Linked DNA regions of Homo sapiens: region 2 is linked to region 1. A link means that fine-mapping ties the variant in region 1 to the expression of a gene that starts in the linked region. Tissue or cell type: whole blood. Region 1 holds a variant in brackets; the other region holds the start of a gene. All regions are shown on one strand. Distances are from middle to middle.

What was found. PIP is the estimated chance that this variant, and not a neighbour inherited with it, causes the effect.
Region 2: MAP4K2 starts here. The variant in region 1 is fine-mapped to the expression of MAP4K2 in whole blood (INTERVAL, PIP above 0.99).

The regions. Positions count from the first base shown.
Region 1 is chr11:64,766,364-64,774,363 of GRCh38, reverse strand. It overlaps SF1 (splicing factor 1), which reads left to right. Exons shown (of 13, transcript NM_004630.4): 3 at 859-934; 4 at 3,956-4,108; 5 at 4,311-4,400; 6 at 4,755-4,938; 7 at 5,026-5,141; 8 at 5,235-5,342; 9 at 6,078-6,258; 10 at 6,520-6,793; 11 at 7,113-7,172; 12 at 7,285-7,464. Among named protein-coding and RNA genes, the nearest start is that of SF1, 8.2 kb to the left of the region's middle. RefSeq lists enhancers at 1,539-1,628, 6,881-7,754, 7,755-8,000. The variant A/G (reference allele first, on the strand shown) is at 3,490.
Region 2 is chr11:64,798,589-64,806,588 of GRCh38, reverse strand. MAP4K2 (mitogen-activated protein kinase kinase kinase kinase 2) reads left to right here and starts at 3,375. Exons shown (of 32, transcript NM_004579.5): 1 at 3,375-3,535; 2 at 3,647-3,704; 3 at 3,936-4,026; 4 at 4,106-4,170; 5 at 4,468-4,523; 6 at 4,832-4,879; 7 at 4,968-5,010; 8 at 5,406-5,478; 9 at 5,558-5,689; 10 at 5,763-5,825; 11 at 6,197-6,278; 12 at 6,373-6,480; 13 at 6,906-6,984; 14 at 7,110-7,168; 1 more. The coding sequence starts at 3,440. It overlaps MEN1 (menin 1), which reads left to right. Exons shown (of 10, transcript NM_001370259.2): 7 at 221-357; 8 at 819-954; 9 at 1,391-1,555; 10 at 1,773-3,073. The coding sequence ends at 2,255. RefSeq lists silencers at 3,236-3,415, 3,566-3,745, 6,518-6,812 and enhancers at 5,256-5,305, 5,396-5,445.

The DNA of each region.
Region 1 (8,000 bases):
CAACTTTTGTGAAACCCTCATCTCTCTTTTTCATGCACAGCCTCATTGGTCAAGGCCCGAGGGCCAAGTACATTGTCCTTGAACACACATTCCATTCTTCTACACGCCTGCTCCCCATATGAACAGTGAGCCTGAAAACAAATTCTTAGCACTTTATGGTTACTGGTTTATTAAGATATGTGGTTTGTCATTTAATATTTGAATAAATATTTCATATAATTGAATAAGAGCTGCAGGTATTGGGAGACCCTTACTAGTACAGGTCTGGTTGTACAGAAAGAGTATGTACAAATTTCTATAAGGTGTTGAATTTTGTTATTAAATGTCTTATTTAAGGAATTTTAAATGTATTAATGAAAATGATCTTTGCTCAATTGGTATTTTTCCTTGTCCCATGTTAATTGGGTCTCATTTTGGGCTATGTTTAACATTTAATGAAGAAAAAACTCAATTCTTGCCCTCAAGTAATTTGATGGGAGTCGGGTATTGGTGACGTAACATGGTTTATGGTTCTGGGTACCAATGGTAAGCAAGCCTTGGTGGGGAGGAAGAGGTGAAACACCTCCTAATAATTGCTTGGATGTTAGCCTTAGTGAACAGTCTTTATTGCTAACCCCTCTTCCAACAAACTGTTTGCTTCCTTAAGTGATAACCATTTTGAAGTGAAAAAAACCTATAGATGTAAAAGGACTCCTGCCGATAGGTGGTTGGGGGTTTTTGCTTCAATGTGTTCACTGATCAGTCGTCCCTTTCAAAGTCTCCGAGTTCTTCATGCTTGTTGTTGAGATTTGAGATGTTTATTGGTAACATTGTCTTTTTTCCATCCTTTTTTTTCTTTCCTAACCTGGTTTCTTCCAGTGCAACTGCAGATAGAAGACCTGACTCGTAAACTGCGCACAGGAGACCTGGGCATCCCCCCTAACCCTGAGGACAGGTTGGGAAACAGTTTTAACCAGCTGACAGTAACGCTTTTACCTTTTTCTCAATACGTTTTACTGGTGGCAACATATTGTGTCAGTTCAATAAAATCATAGTATGACGACTGTACCCTGACCACTTTGGGGATTAAGGTTTAATTAGAAATATGTATGGTCAGTCAACAGTTAGAAAATTGGAATAAAACTTAAAAATGTTGGGAGAATAAAAAGTTACAGGAAAATGGACAACTGGTTTCCAATTGGTAAGCATGTAGATCTTAACCTGATTTACCCACCCTTAGGGGACAGTGAGGTGGCCCGTTAACCTGCCTTTTCAGTACCTGCTTTGGCCAAAAGCCCAGGGCATAGAGTTTTTCTCACAGGTACACAGTGCAGGGACTAAAAATATTTTTGAGCATCACTGAACTTGAGCAAGCCAGGAGCTCTGGTCAGCTCATTGCTGCAGTCTTCCTGCTCATGGTTTTGAGATGGTTTCAAAATCAGATGAGATTTCTAACCAACTTCTTTCACTGCCAGTTAACTTTCAGCCTTGGCCATTGCCTTGGGGGTGTTGGGAGGGGCCAGAATATTCTCACCTATTTTGGGAAGGCATGCAACCAACCCTAAATTACTTTTTTTTTTTCCTTAAAGGGAGCGTGGGCCTCAAACAGCTGTGGTCATGTCATTTCAGTTTGCAGTTTCTCTCACCTCAGAAAAATAAATTGTGTGGGGGAGATGAACTTTTTTAAACTGGAATTTTATTAGCTGATTGAACAGCTAAAATTGGTCATTTAATTAGAAGGGCAGTAAGTCTCTCCCTCTCACTGAATTTTCTCTTAGTACATACAGAATAGTTGAAAAGACTTTGCTTTAAAAAGTAGTGTTTTTGGTTTTTGTTACCCAGTTAATAGCTTATTAAATCAGGAAGATGATGTAATGGCTTTAGAAGTCACTCACTCATGCATCTTTCTTCCGCCCTTTGCCAGGAAACATTAACTTCCTTGTTTCTCCATATTGACTCTTTAATTTGACTTACTACATTTGCTATATTTTACCTATAGATAGATTTTGGTTGTAGGGTTGTGTTGTGTTTCGTTTCTTTTTGAAGATTTTTTTTTTTTTTAAATTTACATTGTAGGTCATAGACCACAACTGTTTAGTGCCTTTTTGGCCTTTTTCCCTTTAATAATATGTCTACAGGTCACCAGTCAATTCCTCCAAAGGTTGAATTTTTAACAAACCTTCTTTGCTTCCTGGATAACTGGGATTAGAATTTAGTTGATCTAGCCGATGCCTGTTGGAGGTGAAGAAGTCGGGCCAGTCTAACCTCTAGAATACTAGCTTTTGCCTTTCACTTCTGCAATTTGGGAGGAGGTTAAACTGTTGTGAGGCCTTCACATGGCCAATTGGGTGCTGGTAAGACTTGTTTTTGTAACTAGCTAAGAATGCTTAATTCTAGACAGCTGTGGGGTGGGAATTAGAAATGTCAAGCATGTTAGAAATAAAACCAGAGCAGGGTTTTTCCTCCCTTCTATTCAGTTTTGAAAGAGGCCCTAATGCCTGATTGGTTTTGCTTTTGAGCCCAGGTTGGAGGGAAATGCATGGGTTTTCTTAATTAAGATAATTTCTTAAAAAGGTGTTATATCACTTAAGCCACTTTATTGTTATTTTGATGCTGCTTAACTTGCACAGTAAAAACATGTTTAAAACTTTTCTTGTAGACTTAAATGTATAAGATGGTAGTCTAATGAGCTGGGGTATGTTTGCTTTTGTTCACTCTTAATGGATTGTGCTAACAGTTTATACAAATGCTAGAAACGGAGGTGTCATTTAGCCGTCATTAGCCATGAACAAACCTGACCTTTTATTCCATCGTGTGTGTAACGTGGTGTGACATGGTTCCCTTTAGGCTGAAGACAGTGGGAGCAGCCGAGTTCAGTCCTTGCTCTCCAACTAGGCAAGGTTCTCTCAACTAAACCAAGGGTATAGGAGTCTTGATTACTTTCAGTATGTTTTTTTAATAACCTGATCCACATGGTCTCTTCCCTTCTTGCAGCTGCTACTAAATTTTCATTCAGAATATCAAGCTATGGTCCTTTTTGTAATCTTAACTCAAAATTCTAGGAGTGTAACCTCTCTTTTTTATTACCGCAAAATCCAGCTGTGGTAAACTGACCATTTTATCATTACATTTTTTTACTTGTAGCAACAGCATTTTACTCCTTAAAAAAATGAGAGAGAGAAAATCTGCTTTCTGGACTTGTAAACTCTGGTGGAGAATCATAGGTTTTCCCCTTGCTGTTTGCAGGTTCAGACCCTAGACAAGTATGACCAAATCTGCATTTGCAGCCTCTCGCAGAAGCTGCTTTAGCACTTTAACGTTTTTCTCTACCCAGACTCCCCAACCTCGAACAGCCAGAAAACAGGTTGTCTCCTGGGCCTTGGACACAGCCAGCCAGGCCATTGAAGGAAAAGCAAAGACGAAGCGAACCATCTCTCTCCATTGTGGGGGCCAAGTAGCTGCAGTAGCCTTCAGTCCCAGTTGCATTGGGTTAAAGAGCTCATACATACT[A/G]TGTGTTAGGGGTACAGAAGCTTTTCCTCATAGGGCATGAGCTCTCCAAGAGTTAACCTTTTGCCTAAACTTGGGGTTTCTGTGGTTCATAAAGTTGGGATATGTATTTTTTTTCAAATGGAAGAAAATCCGTATTTGGCAAGAAGACTCCAGGGGATGATACTGTCCTTGCCACTTACAGTCCAAAGATTTTCCCCAAAGAATAGACATTTTTTCCTCTCATCACTTCTAGATGCAAAATCTTTTATTTTTTTCCTTTCTCACACACACCCCAGACCCCTAACGTTAAGCCAGCTTCCATCTCCCCATTCCACACGATCTTGAGTAGCACACGTTATGGTCGGTTCCTCCGAAGAGTGTTGTATTAGGGTCTGAGAGGCAGAGGGGCTGGGAAAGACTTGTTATAGTCCGTGTGGGAATGAGAGAAGTCGGTGCAGAATAGTAAACGGGAGTCTGTTTCCCACAGGTCCCCTTCCCCTGAGCCCATCTACAATAGCGAGGGGAAGCGGCTTAACACCCGAGAGTTCCGCACCCGCAAAAAGCTGGAAGAGGAGCGGCACAACCTCATCACAGAGATGGTTGCACTCAATCCGGATTTCAAGCCACCTGCAGATTACAAGTAAGCGGAGGGGCTCGGTCATCTGGGATGAAGACACATGCAGATCATGGGTGACCTGCTGGGATGGGACAGTATTGGTACTACTCACCTCTTGCCTCAAGTCACCCATAATTAGCACTTGGTACCAATATTTGGTTTTAGAAAAGCCGCTGGCTGTGTCATTCTCCAGAAATGTGCGGTGACACAGGCTTTTCTTTCTTAGACCTCCAGCAACACGTGTGAGTGATAAAGTCATGATTCCACAAGATGAGTACCCAGAAATCAACTTTGTGGGGCTGCTCATCGGGCCCAGGTGAGTAACTGCTGGTCTATAGGATATAGAATTCCTTTAGAGCCTGTGAGATGTGTCCGTTTTGTGCCTAATTGGGGACTGTTGGCTTACTTTTCCCCTTTTTGGTAGGACATTTCATTTTGGCTGAATTAATGCCTTTCTGTGAGAAGGTGTCTTAACTTCCCCACTAGTGCGGAGAAGTCAAATCCTCAGGTTTACTGTGGCTGACCATAATATAGAGTTCATGGAGCTCTTGGTGGGAAAATCCAATTCTCTGCGCTTGTGGTTTCCCACCAATGCCAAATTGGTCCAGCCTCTCTTCCCTCTTGAGTGTGAATTTGTCAGGTATAAACTTAGTCATTTCTGCCTCTCTAGAGGGAACACCCTGAAGAACATAGAGAAGGAGTGCAATGCCAAGATTATGATCCGGGGGAAAGGGTCTGTGAAAGAAGGGAAGGTTGGGCGCAAAGATGGCCAGATGTTGCCAGGAGAAGATGAGCCACTTCATGCCCTGGTTACTGCCAATACAATGGAGAACGTCAAAAAGGCAGTGGAACAGGTGAGCGGTGAGCCCAGAAAGGAAGCCTCCTAGCAGAAACCTAGGTGGAGGCCCTAAGCACTTAACTGTCCATTGCATTTTCACTAGATAAGAAACATCCTGAAGCAGGGTATCGAGACTCCAGAGGACCAGAATGATCTACGGAAGATGCAGCTTCGGGAGTTGGCTCGCTTAAATGGGACCCTTCGGGAAGACGATAACAGGTATGTGATCAGTTTAAAGGAGAGTGTAGAGACCTGAAGAACCTATGGAAGTAGAGATTGTTCCCTTGCATTGACCTCTTTTTCCTTTAATAGGATCTTAAGACCCTGGCAGAGCTCAGAGACCCGCAGCATTACCAACACCACAGTGTGTACCAAGTGTGGAGGGGCTGGCCACATTGCTTCAGACTGTAAATTCCAAAGGTGAGGGGCTGGCTCTTGCGGTTTCCTGGTAGCCTGCGATGTGCAGGACAACTTTTCTGGCACATTCATTGGTTGCTGTTAATCTTACCAAGAGAAACATCCTTTCTGTTAGTGTGGTCTGTAATGGTGTGATTTAAAGCCCAGGATGATTAGAAATAGGCTGTACAGATACCCCTGTTTGTTTGTCTTGAGCCCAAGAAAACTGGAAGTTTCCATTTTGGGTATGTTTTTACTGGGGCTCAATAGGAAATTCACTGCTTTTGCTGTTCAGAATTGGTTCAAGAAGACTAAGCAATCTCTACAGATTTCTGACCAGTTGCAAGTCAGCACTCGATATCAACACTTTCTGACTGGCTGGCGAATATGTAAGGTTTTGTTTAGGAAGTTCGTTCTGGCAGTTGTGCCAGTCTTGCATAGATTTTCCTTTCCTCAAACTGGGAATGAAGTTTGATGAAATTGACTTGAGAGAACCTGTGCTTCATCGGTGCTCAGGGTCTCCTGTGCTCTTCGCCCAGGGGCCCCTCTACTCTGGTGATCCCAGATGCAGAACTGGGCACGAAACTGAAGATCTGATGAGACTGTTGAGAGCCATGCCCAGTAAGGGGTTAGAAAGATGTGTGATGATCTGGTGATTGAATTCTTCAGAACTTTCCATATGTTGGTTCCTCAGGATAAAAGCTTCCTTCTTAACAAGTTTTTCCCCTTTCTCTGTTTGTGTCCCCCACCCCACTTCAGGCCTGGTGATCCTCAGTCAGCTCAGGATAAAGCACGGATGGATAAAGAATATTTGTCCCTCATGGCTGAACTGGGTGAAGCACCTGTCCCAGCATCTGTGGGCTCCACCTCTGGGCCTGCCACCACACCCCTGGCCAGCGCACCTCGTCCTGCTGCTCCCGCCAACAACCCACCTCCACCGGTGAGCCTGGGGGCTGGCTCTCTTGGTCTGGCTTCCCCATTCTCTACTGCAGAGACTGGGAGCTATGGCCACGTGGTTTGGGTAGAGCAGACAATGGATGTGGATGGCAACATTGTTCTTCCGGGATCTCAGGCCAGTTTGGGGACTTCTCACTTCGGGAAGACCTTGTTCTTGTGTTCTGGTCCTGTGTCATAACCCGAAGAACAATGTTGCCACTAGGAGGCGCAGGCAGGGACGTTGGCAGGAAATGCTCTCACGTAGTCTCTCATGTCTACCACCCAGAGCCGCCCACCCTGGATGAATTCTGGCCCTTCAGAGAGTCGGCCCTACCACGGCATGCATGGAGGTGGTCCTGGTGGGCCCGGAGGTGGCCCCCACAGCTTCCCACACCCATTACCCAGCCTGACAGGTGGGCATGGTGGACATCCCATGCAGCACAACCCCAATGGACCCCCACCCCCTTGGATGCAGCCACCACCACCACCGATGAACCAGGGCCCCCACCCTCCTGGGCACCATGGCCCTCCTCCAATGGGTAAGTAAGTGTCAGACCAGAAACCTTGGGGGCTTTGGGATAAGCAAGGGGTTACGTCAGGTCGCTGTTGGCTAGAAGCAGCTCTCAAGTGGCTGGGCAATGTGCTGGGTCTGCCTGGCTTGCCAGGGTTGTGGCTCTGGAAGGAGCAAGACTCCATTCTGGTTCAGGGAGTGATTCTGTGTTGGGTAAGCACAGACCTGCCTTTTACAGGCATGGTTTTCAGAACTCGCGTAAGGATAGCAACTGAGGTTATCACAGGGGTGGCTTCCCTGGCCAGTTCCAATGTCCTGCTAAGTCCCTGCTCTTTCCTTCCATCAAGATCAGTACCTGGGAAGTACGCCTGTGGGCTCTGGGGTCTATCGCCTGCATCAAGGAAAAGGTAATGGCTGTCTGCTGGCTGTGGGTCTTCACCTAGGCTTGGGTGAGTGGGGGTTCTGGCCCAAGTCCCCGCCTTTCCCTGAGGCCTCATCTTTGCCTCCACCTGTCCACAGGTATGATGCCGCCACCACCTATGGGCATGATGCCGCCGCCGCCGCCGCCTCCCAGTGGGCAGCCCCCACCCCCTCCCTCTGGTCCTCTTCCCCCATGGCAACAACAGCAGCAGCAGCCTCCGCCACCCCCTCCGCCCAGCAGCAGTATGGCTTCCAGTACCCCCTTGCCATGGCAGCAAAGTGAGTAGAATATTTTGGGCTTGTGGGGGTGGGTGGGATGGGGGTGGGGCTGACAGGAACCATAGAGCCTCACACAAGCAGGCAGGTGTCTTGGGATGAGCCCCTGGGCTCTGCTGGGGTTGTAAACAGAAAGGGCCTCCTGGTCCAGGGGGTGGAGGGGCATCTTGAAGAGGAGAGCTGATGTTTGGTGTGGTTGTGTCTGGGGAGAGGTTCGTGGGGGCCTGGAGGGGAGCCTGCTATTGTAGGTAGGGGGCCAGAAGTCCAGACCCTCGCAGGCTGAGTGAGCGGCTGGCTGGACTGAGCCTGGTGCATATGGGTCGAGTGGGATGGTGCATGCTTGCTCTGGCAAGGGCTGCGATTGGGGTGAGAGACTGCAGAGGTGGGACTGGGCAGTGGGGAGACAGCAGCTGTGGCCTTGAGGTTGAATGTGCCGTTCGGTGGTGGCGGCGGCTGGGCGGAGGGACATCAGAGCTGTTCTTGTGTCTGGTACCTTCCCCTCAGCCCTTCCAGGGGCATTGGTGACAAAGGGCTTACTC
Region 2 (8,000 bases), 32 kb before region 1:
CCACCCCTGCAGTCTGCCCCAGGCCTCAGCCAGCAGTCCTGTAGACCCAGGGAGGAGACCAGGTAGAAGGGCTGGCAGCGAGTGGAGGTGGGAGTGGAGATGGAGAGGACTCCCTGGGATCTTCCTGTGGCCCCTTCTGGGTGTGCCCTGGTGGGGCATTTGTGCCAGCAGGGCAGCTGGGGCTGCCTCCCTGAGGATCCTCTGCCTCACCTCCATCCAGGGCATTGCCTCAGCCAAGACCTACTATCGGGATGAACACATCTACCCCTACATGTACCTGGCTGGCTACCACTGTCGCAACCGCAATGTGCGGGAAGCCCTGCAGGCCTGGGCGGACACGGCCACTGTCATCCAGGAGTGAGGATCCCCCTACTAGGGCCTGCAGCCTGTCCTTTCTTCCCCTCCATCAGTTTCCAACCACCCTCGTCCAGGACTGAGGCCTGGCTCCCACGCCCCATCCCCTTTCCATCCAGTCCCTAGGCAGCAAGGCCACCATTACCCAGGAGGTAGGGACCCTGATTAAGGTGTCACATCTTTCCCTCCCTCCCCTCTCCTCCTAATTTTTTTTTTCTCAGAACAGTCTCAAATCTCCAATGTTTAACCACCATCATCCAGCAGTGGGACTTCCACCCTCGGCCCCATGCCCCCCTCCTCATTCTTGCTTTCTTCCTCTGGGCTGACCCAGACAGCATCATTTTGCAGTGAGGACCCCACCTACTCCCCCAGCCCCTGGGGGCTCCATCCCCCGCCAGGTCCCTGGGGCTACCCCCGATGGTGAGACCCCTTCAGACCCTACAGAGACCCCACTGCTCTCACAGCTACAACTACTGCCGGGAAGACGAGGAGATCTACAAGGAGTTCTTTGAAGTAGCCAATGATGTCATCCCCAACCTGCTGAAGGAGGCAGCCAGCTTGCTGGAGGCGGGCGAGGAGCGGCCGGGGGAGCAAAGCCAGGTGAAAGGCTGGAGCTCCAGCCTGTGTCCAGCCTCCCACCTGGACAGGGCTCCCTTCCACAGGCCATGGGGGCTGCATGTACGGGATTAGGGATGGCAGGAGGAAGGTGGCCCTGAGCAGACAGCTATGTTCCCTTTTGCTATAACTGAGGTCCTGGGCCCACGTTGGACGGGACTGAAGGTATTTTAGAGGTTTCTACCCTGTGCCTTCAGTTTCATGGCCAGACTCCCTCCCTCAGCTGAGGGGTGGAGGTAGGGATGGTACGTCCTGGCTATGGATTGGCTTTATAAAAGGAAAGAGGTTCTAAGAATGTTCCCAACCTATGCTTACCTTTTCTGGAGCCAGGGGTCTTTGCCTAGGTGGGGGGCCTGGCCTGTGCCCTCTGCTAAGGGGTGAGTAAGAGACTGATCTGTGCCCTCCCTTCCCCCTCGTCCAGGGCACCCAGAGCCAAGGTTCCGCCCTCCAGGACCCTGAGTGCTTCGCCCACCTGCTGCGATTCTACGACGGCATCTGCAAATGGGAGGAGGGCAGTCCCACGCCTGTGCTGCATGTGGGCTGGGCCACCTTTCTTGTGCAGTCCCTAGGCCGTTTTGAGGGACAGGTGAGGGACAGCTGCACAGAGGTCTGGGCACTACAGGTGGTGACAGCAGCCACGGGCTTGTCAGACTTTTCTGGCCCAGGGGCAGCATCTGCCCATCCCCTTGGGTGCCGATGGGACTGAGACCCCCTGGGTGGGATGGGATGGCCAGAGCAGGGTCCTGGAGTTCCAGCCACTGGCCGGCAACCTTGCTCTCACCTTGCTCTCCCCACTGGCCCAGGTGCGGCAGAAGGTGCGCATAGTGAGCCGAGAGGCCGAGGCGGCCGAGGCCGAGGAGCCGTGGGGCGAGGAAGCCCGGGAAGGCCGGCGGCGGGGCCCACGGCGGGAGTCCAAGCCAGAGGAGCCCCCGCCGCCCAAGAAGCCAGCACTGGACAAGGGCCTGGGCACCGGCCAGGGTGCAGTGTCAGGACCCCCCCGGAAGCCTCCTGGGACTGTCGCTGGCACAGCCCGAGGCCCTGAAGGTGGCAGCACGGCTCAGGTGCCAGCACCCACAGCATCACCACCGCCGGAGGGTCCAGTGCTCACTTTCCAGAGTGAGAAGATGAAGGGCATGAAGGAGCTGCTGGTGGCCACCAAGATCAACTCGAGCGCCATCAAGCTGCAACTCACGGCACAGTCGCAAGTGCAGATGAAGAAGCAGAAAGTGTCCACCCCTAGTGACTACACTCTGTCTTTCCTCAAGCGGCAGCGCAAAGGCCTCTGAACTACTGGGGACTTCGGACCGCTTGTGGGGACCCAGGCTCCGCCCTTAGTCCCCCAACTCTGAGCCCATGTTCTGCCCCCAGCCCAAAGGGGACAGGCCTCACCTCTACCCAAACCCTAGGTTCCCGGTCCCGAGTACAGTCTGTATCAAACCCACGATTTTCTCCAGCTCAGAACCCAGGGCTCTGCCCCAGTCGTTAGAATATAGGTCTCTTCTCCCAGAATCCCAGCCGGCCAATGGAAACCTCACGCTGGGTCCTAATTACCAGTCTTTAAAGGCCCAGCCCCTAGAAACCCAAGCTCCTCCTCGGAACCGCTCACCTAGAGCCAGACCAACGTTACTCAGGGCTCCTCCCAGCTTGTAGGAGCTGAGGTTTCACCCTTAACCCAAGGAGCACAGGTCCCACCTCCAGCCCGGGAGCCTAGGACCACTCAGCCCCTAGGAGTATATTTCCGCACTTCAGAATTCCATATCTTGCGAATCCAAGCTCCCTGCCCCAAATAACTTCAGTCCTGCTCCAGAATTTGGAAATCCTAGTTTCCTCTCCTTCGTATCCCGAGTCTGGGACACAAAACTCCGCCCCCAGCCTATGAGCATCCTGAGCCCCGCCCTCTTCCTGACGAAACTGGCCCCGGATCAGAGCAGGACCTCCCTTCCGACCCTCTGGGAACCTCCCAGAGGTCCAGCCCATCTCGGAGCATCCCGGAGGAAATCTGCAGAGGGTTAGGAGTGGGTGACAAGAGCCTGATCTCTTCCTGTTTTGTACATAGATTTATTTTTCAGTTCCAAGAAAGATGAATACATTTTGTTAAAAAAAATATAAAGCGCAAGTCCATGTTTATCTGGGAAATTGGGGATGGGGCGGGGAGTGGAGCGCCCCCTCTTCCCTCTGTCTTCTGGCTCCCGGGACTTTGCGCTCCCTACCTGTGGAGCGCGAGCGACAGTGGCGGCGGAAGGACGTAGGCTCCGCCCCGGCCTTGGGGCTTCCCCGCGCCGCCGAGGGCCCGTCCCGCGGGCGCCTCCTCCCGGACTGGCGGTGGGGCATCCCCGGCGCGGCCCCGCCCCCGGGCCTCAGCCCCGCCCCCGCGGCCTCAGAGCCACGGGCGCCCGCCCCGCCCCGCGCCGCCCCGCGCCGGCTCCGCAGCTCGCGCCCGCCCGCCTGCCGGCCCGCCCGGCGCCGGGCCATGGCGCTGCTGCGGGATGTGTCGCTGCAGGACCCGCGGGACCGCTTCGAGCTGCTGCAGCGCGTGGGGGCCGGGACCTATGGCGACGTCTACAAGGTGCGACGGGACGGGCGGGAGAGCCGGGAGGAGGGTGCCAGCCCCGCACCCCGCGGCAGGATCTAGCCCCCGGCCCCGCCCCCCATCCCGCTTCACCCTCCGCCCCTGCAGGCCCGCGACACGGTCACGTCCGAACTGGCCGCCGTGAAGATAGTCAAGCTAGACCCAGGTGAGGGCCCGGGTCGGGCCTCTGCGCCAGAGGAAGGGCAGAGCGCCCGCGGGCGCGGGGTGCGGGCGGAGGGTTGACGTTTCCGAGACCCCTGAGAGGCGTGCCCCGGGAGGTGCTGTCACCTGCACCTGCCTGGCCCGGAGGGAGGCACTCTGTGCCCATTTTGCAGATGGGGGCACTGAGTCAGGGCAACCCCAGCGCGCCTTCCCCATGATGCTTTGTGCTTCCCAGGGGACGACATCAGCTCCCTCCAGCAGGAAATCACCATCCTGCGTGAGTGCCGCCACCCCAATGTGGTGGCCTACATTGGCAGCTACCTCAGGTGAGGCTGCCTTATCCTCCTGGCCCCAGGCAGCCCCCATGTGACCTGCTTTGTGCCCACCCCAGCTCTTTGTCCCTAGGAATGACCGCTTGTGGATCTGCATGGAGTTCTGCGGAGGGGGCTCCCTGCAGGAGATTTACCATGGTGAGGCCAGGGCTCCAGGCCCCAGCAGGCCCCAGCCTTCCCCCACCCCTACCCCACTGGGGTACCAGAGGGGACTCTGGGCCCTGGACTTGGGCTCCTCTCCACTCCTGCCTGGCTGTGTGACCTTGAGAGAAATACTGTCCATCTCTGGGTTCAGTATCCTAGACTAAACTGGGAGGGGACGTGGCCAACACCGCTTTCATTTAACAGTGCCTGCTGCTTTTCCCACACACGGTAGCCTGGGAGGGTGGGCATGACCCCCGGGCCCCCAAGCCAGCCTCTCCCTTTTCCTTTCAGCCACTGGGCCCCTGGAGGAGCGGCAGATTGCCTACGTCTGCCGAGAGGCACTGAAGGTAGCTGGGCCTGTGAGGTGCCCACACCTCTGGTCTCCAGAAGCTGTGGGCCAGGAGCCCAGATGACCAGCAGGGAGGCGGGTGGAGTGCCTCGGGTGGGGCTGGCCCGAGGGGCTGTAGGTCCTGGGGAAAAGGGGCCCCAGCCCTGTTGCCGGAAGCAGTCCATTTCCCTCTTGGCTCAGTCACTTCCTGTTTGGGGAGAGGGGAGGAAGAAGCAGCCTGAGTGGGGGGCCCCAGTCCTGAGAGGGGGTTTGGGGAGGTGGGACAGTGCTGGGTGGCTGCTCTCAGGGACTCCTCTTTGTCGCCAGGGGCTCCACCACCTGCATTCTCAGGGGAAGATCCACAGAGACATCAAGGTAGGCACCTAGCTGGGGGCACTCCTGGGGAGGGAGGAGGAGGCCCTCGGGGGCACCAGATGGGATTGTCTCTCCTCCATTCCCACAGGGAGCCAACCTTCTCCTCACTCTCCAGGGAGATGTCAAACTGGGTCAGTACCCTGGGGACACCATCAGGGTGAGGGCTCTGTGGACCCTCCCCGGCTACCCTGGACTCAAGGGTTGGGTGTCACTGGGCAAGTCACTTTGCCACTTGAGTCTCAGTTTCCCTGCTTAGAAGATGGAACGGTACTCCCTCCCTGCTGGAAAATAGAGGAGGTTGGGTCTGCACGGAGTTGACATGGGACCAGGCACTCCGTCAGGGATAGAGGGTGGTTGACCCCTCTCAGGAGAGGGACCTGGCCTTGCCTAGGGCCTGCGGCAGCTGTGACCAAGCGGGGCCACCTGCCCGTCTGAGCCCTGCCAGGTGCAGCCGAGCCAGAGCCCTGGGCGTGGGAGGGTGAGTGGCAGCCAGAGGGCTGGTGAGAGTGGCTGTTTCTCCCCACAGCTGACTTTGGGGTGTCAGGCGAGCTGACAGCGTCTGTGGCCAAGAGGAGGTCTTTCATTGGGACTCCCTACTGGTGAGGCTGCGCCTGGGGCGGAGGGGTAGGGGCCACAGAGCAGGGCACCCGGCCATCCCATCTGTGACCCCACCTCTAGGATGGCTCCCGAGGTGGCTGCTGTGGAGCGCAAAGGTGGCTACAATGAGCTATGTGACGTCTGGGCCCTGGGCATCACTGCCATTGAGCTGGGCGAGCTGCAGCCCCCTCTGTTCCACCTGCACCCCATGAGGTCAGCCCAACACTTGCCCCTCACCTGACCCTTGATCTGCGGCCTGTGGCCCCTGACCTCGCGCCCTCCACAGGGCCCTGATGCTCATGTCGAAGAGCAGCTTCCAGCCGCCCAAACTGAGAGATAAGACTCGCTGGTAAGGGCCACACCCTGCTGCCGGGACCCCCTTTTCTGTCAGCCCCATAGTGGACAAACAGCCTCTGCCAACTCCCGGGGGGCAACCCCAAGAGCCCTGTCCTTTCTGGGCTACTACAGACCATCTGAGTCAGGGGCCTGGTCCTTCTGTGGGTTGAAGACCCAGCGTGGTCAGGAAAGAAGGGCAGAGGGTTGGTGGAGGAGCCGCTGTGTCGCAAGGCAGCGTTGCTCGGCCAGTGGCCCTTGGCCTCGGCTGGCTCCTTCCTGGGTGGGCCCAGCAGACGCCTCTGGAGGGGTGGTAGGGCAGCTGGCAGGACACCCTGCACGAGGGCTAACCTGGATCTGGCGCTGGGGGGCTCTTGTGCCTTCTAGGACCCAGAATTTCCACCACTTTCTCAAACTGGCCCTGACCAAGAATCCTAAGAAGAGGCCGACAGCAGAGAAGCTCCTGCAGGTGGGAGGCAGGGGGCCGGGAGAGAGGCCCAGTACTCAAAAGCAGGGCCCTGGATCAGGGGCCAACCTGATCACCCCCCTCCCCCACTTTCCAGCACCCGTTCACGACTCAGCAGCTCCCTCGGGCCCTCCTCACACAGCTGCTGGACAAAGCCAGTGACCCTCATCTGGGGACCCCCTCCCCTGAGGACTGTGAGCTGGAGGTAGGTGAGGGGGGCTGGAAAGTGAGTCTTGGGCTGGTCTGCTTAGAAAGAGCCCGAGGGTGATGTTGGTGGAGGTCCTTTAACTGGCACCATTCCAGCTCAGGGAGCTGGCCTCAGCTGAGCCCTCCCATTAGGAGTCTCTGTCATGCTGACTTTTGTTTCCTGTACCACCCCCTTGATAGGTCCCTGCCCTTGAGTCCAAGCTGACCATGACCACGACTGTGCCATTTTCTTGCTTTCTGTGTGATCTTTGGCACTGCTCTGTGTGGGTTCTCTCATCTGTGAAGTGGGGTTCCATTTTATTTTACAGTAGTCCCAGAGGGCTGTCATGAAAGCAAAACGCACTGGTGCGTGTGAAGCTCCTAGAGCAGCCCCGGCATGAGGCGCGTGCCAGGTGTGTCCACACTGTTTCTGTTTTTCCTTAGACCTATGACATGTTTCCAGACACCATTCACTCCCGGGGGCAGCACGGCCCAGCCGAGAGGACCCCCTCGGAGATCCAGTGTGAGTCTGCAGCAGGGGCTGTGTGTGTGCAGATTTTGGGGGGCCTGTGTGCACATGGATTTGGTGTGAGTAGAGGTCCATCCTGAGACTCCAGCTCCTTCACTCTTGTACTCTGGGCCCCCCAGTTCACCAGGTGAAATTTGGCGCCCCACGCAGGAAGGAAACTGACCCACTGAATGAGCCGGTGAGTGGGCAGGCCTTGAGGGGAAGGTGGTGCCCAGAGGTGGGGCAGGGAGGTCGGATGGAGGCCGAGCAGCTCAAATCAAGGGAGATTTGAAGCTGGGTGGCCTCGGGCCTTGGGCCTTAGACTGTCCAAGCAAGCCTGTCCTACCCAGGGACCTGGAGGGTTAGGGGCTCCTTCCTGGGCCAAGTTCTTTTAGGTGGGTGTCTGGAAGGTAGCACAGAGACCATGCCTTTCCCAAAAGGAGGCCGTCATGTGCCTGAGCCCTCACCCTACCCTGCTCAGCCTCGTTTTCCCACCTGTGTGTCCCCAGTGGTCTGACTTTCTGTCTCTGCCCTCATCGGCTCTGTCACTGGTCTCTCCTCACCCCCCAGCCTGTCTCTTCCTCCCTCGCTGTCTGTTGCCCTTTCTTTCACAGTCTTCAGCTCTGCCTCCCACTGTCTGTCTCTCTCATCTTCTGTGTGTTTCCATCTCACCTTTCCCGTCTGTCTGTCTGTCTGTCTTTCCTTTCCTGAATCTCTTGAGCGCCCTCTCACGTTGCATCTGTCTCTGCTTCTTCCCCGGTCTCTACCTTGGTTTCCCCCAGTGGGAGGAAGAGTGGACACTACTGGGAAAGGAAGAGTTGAGTGGGTAAGTGAGGTATGGGGAAGCTGCAGGGGGTGGCAGGGGCGGCAGAAAGGCTGACCTCTGACCGGGCGTGGTGGCTCATGCCTGTAATCCCAGCACTTTAGGAGGCTGAGGTGGGTGGATCACCTGAGGTCAGGAGTTCAAGACCAGCTTTGCCAACATGGTGAAACTCCACCTCTACTTAAAATACAAAAATTAGGCTGGGCGG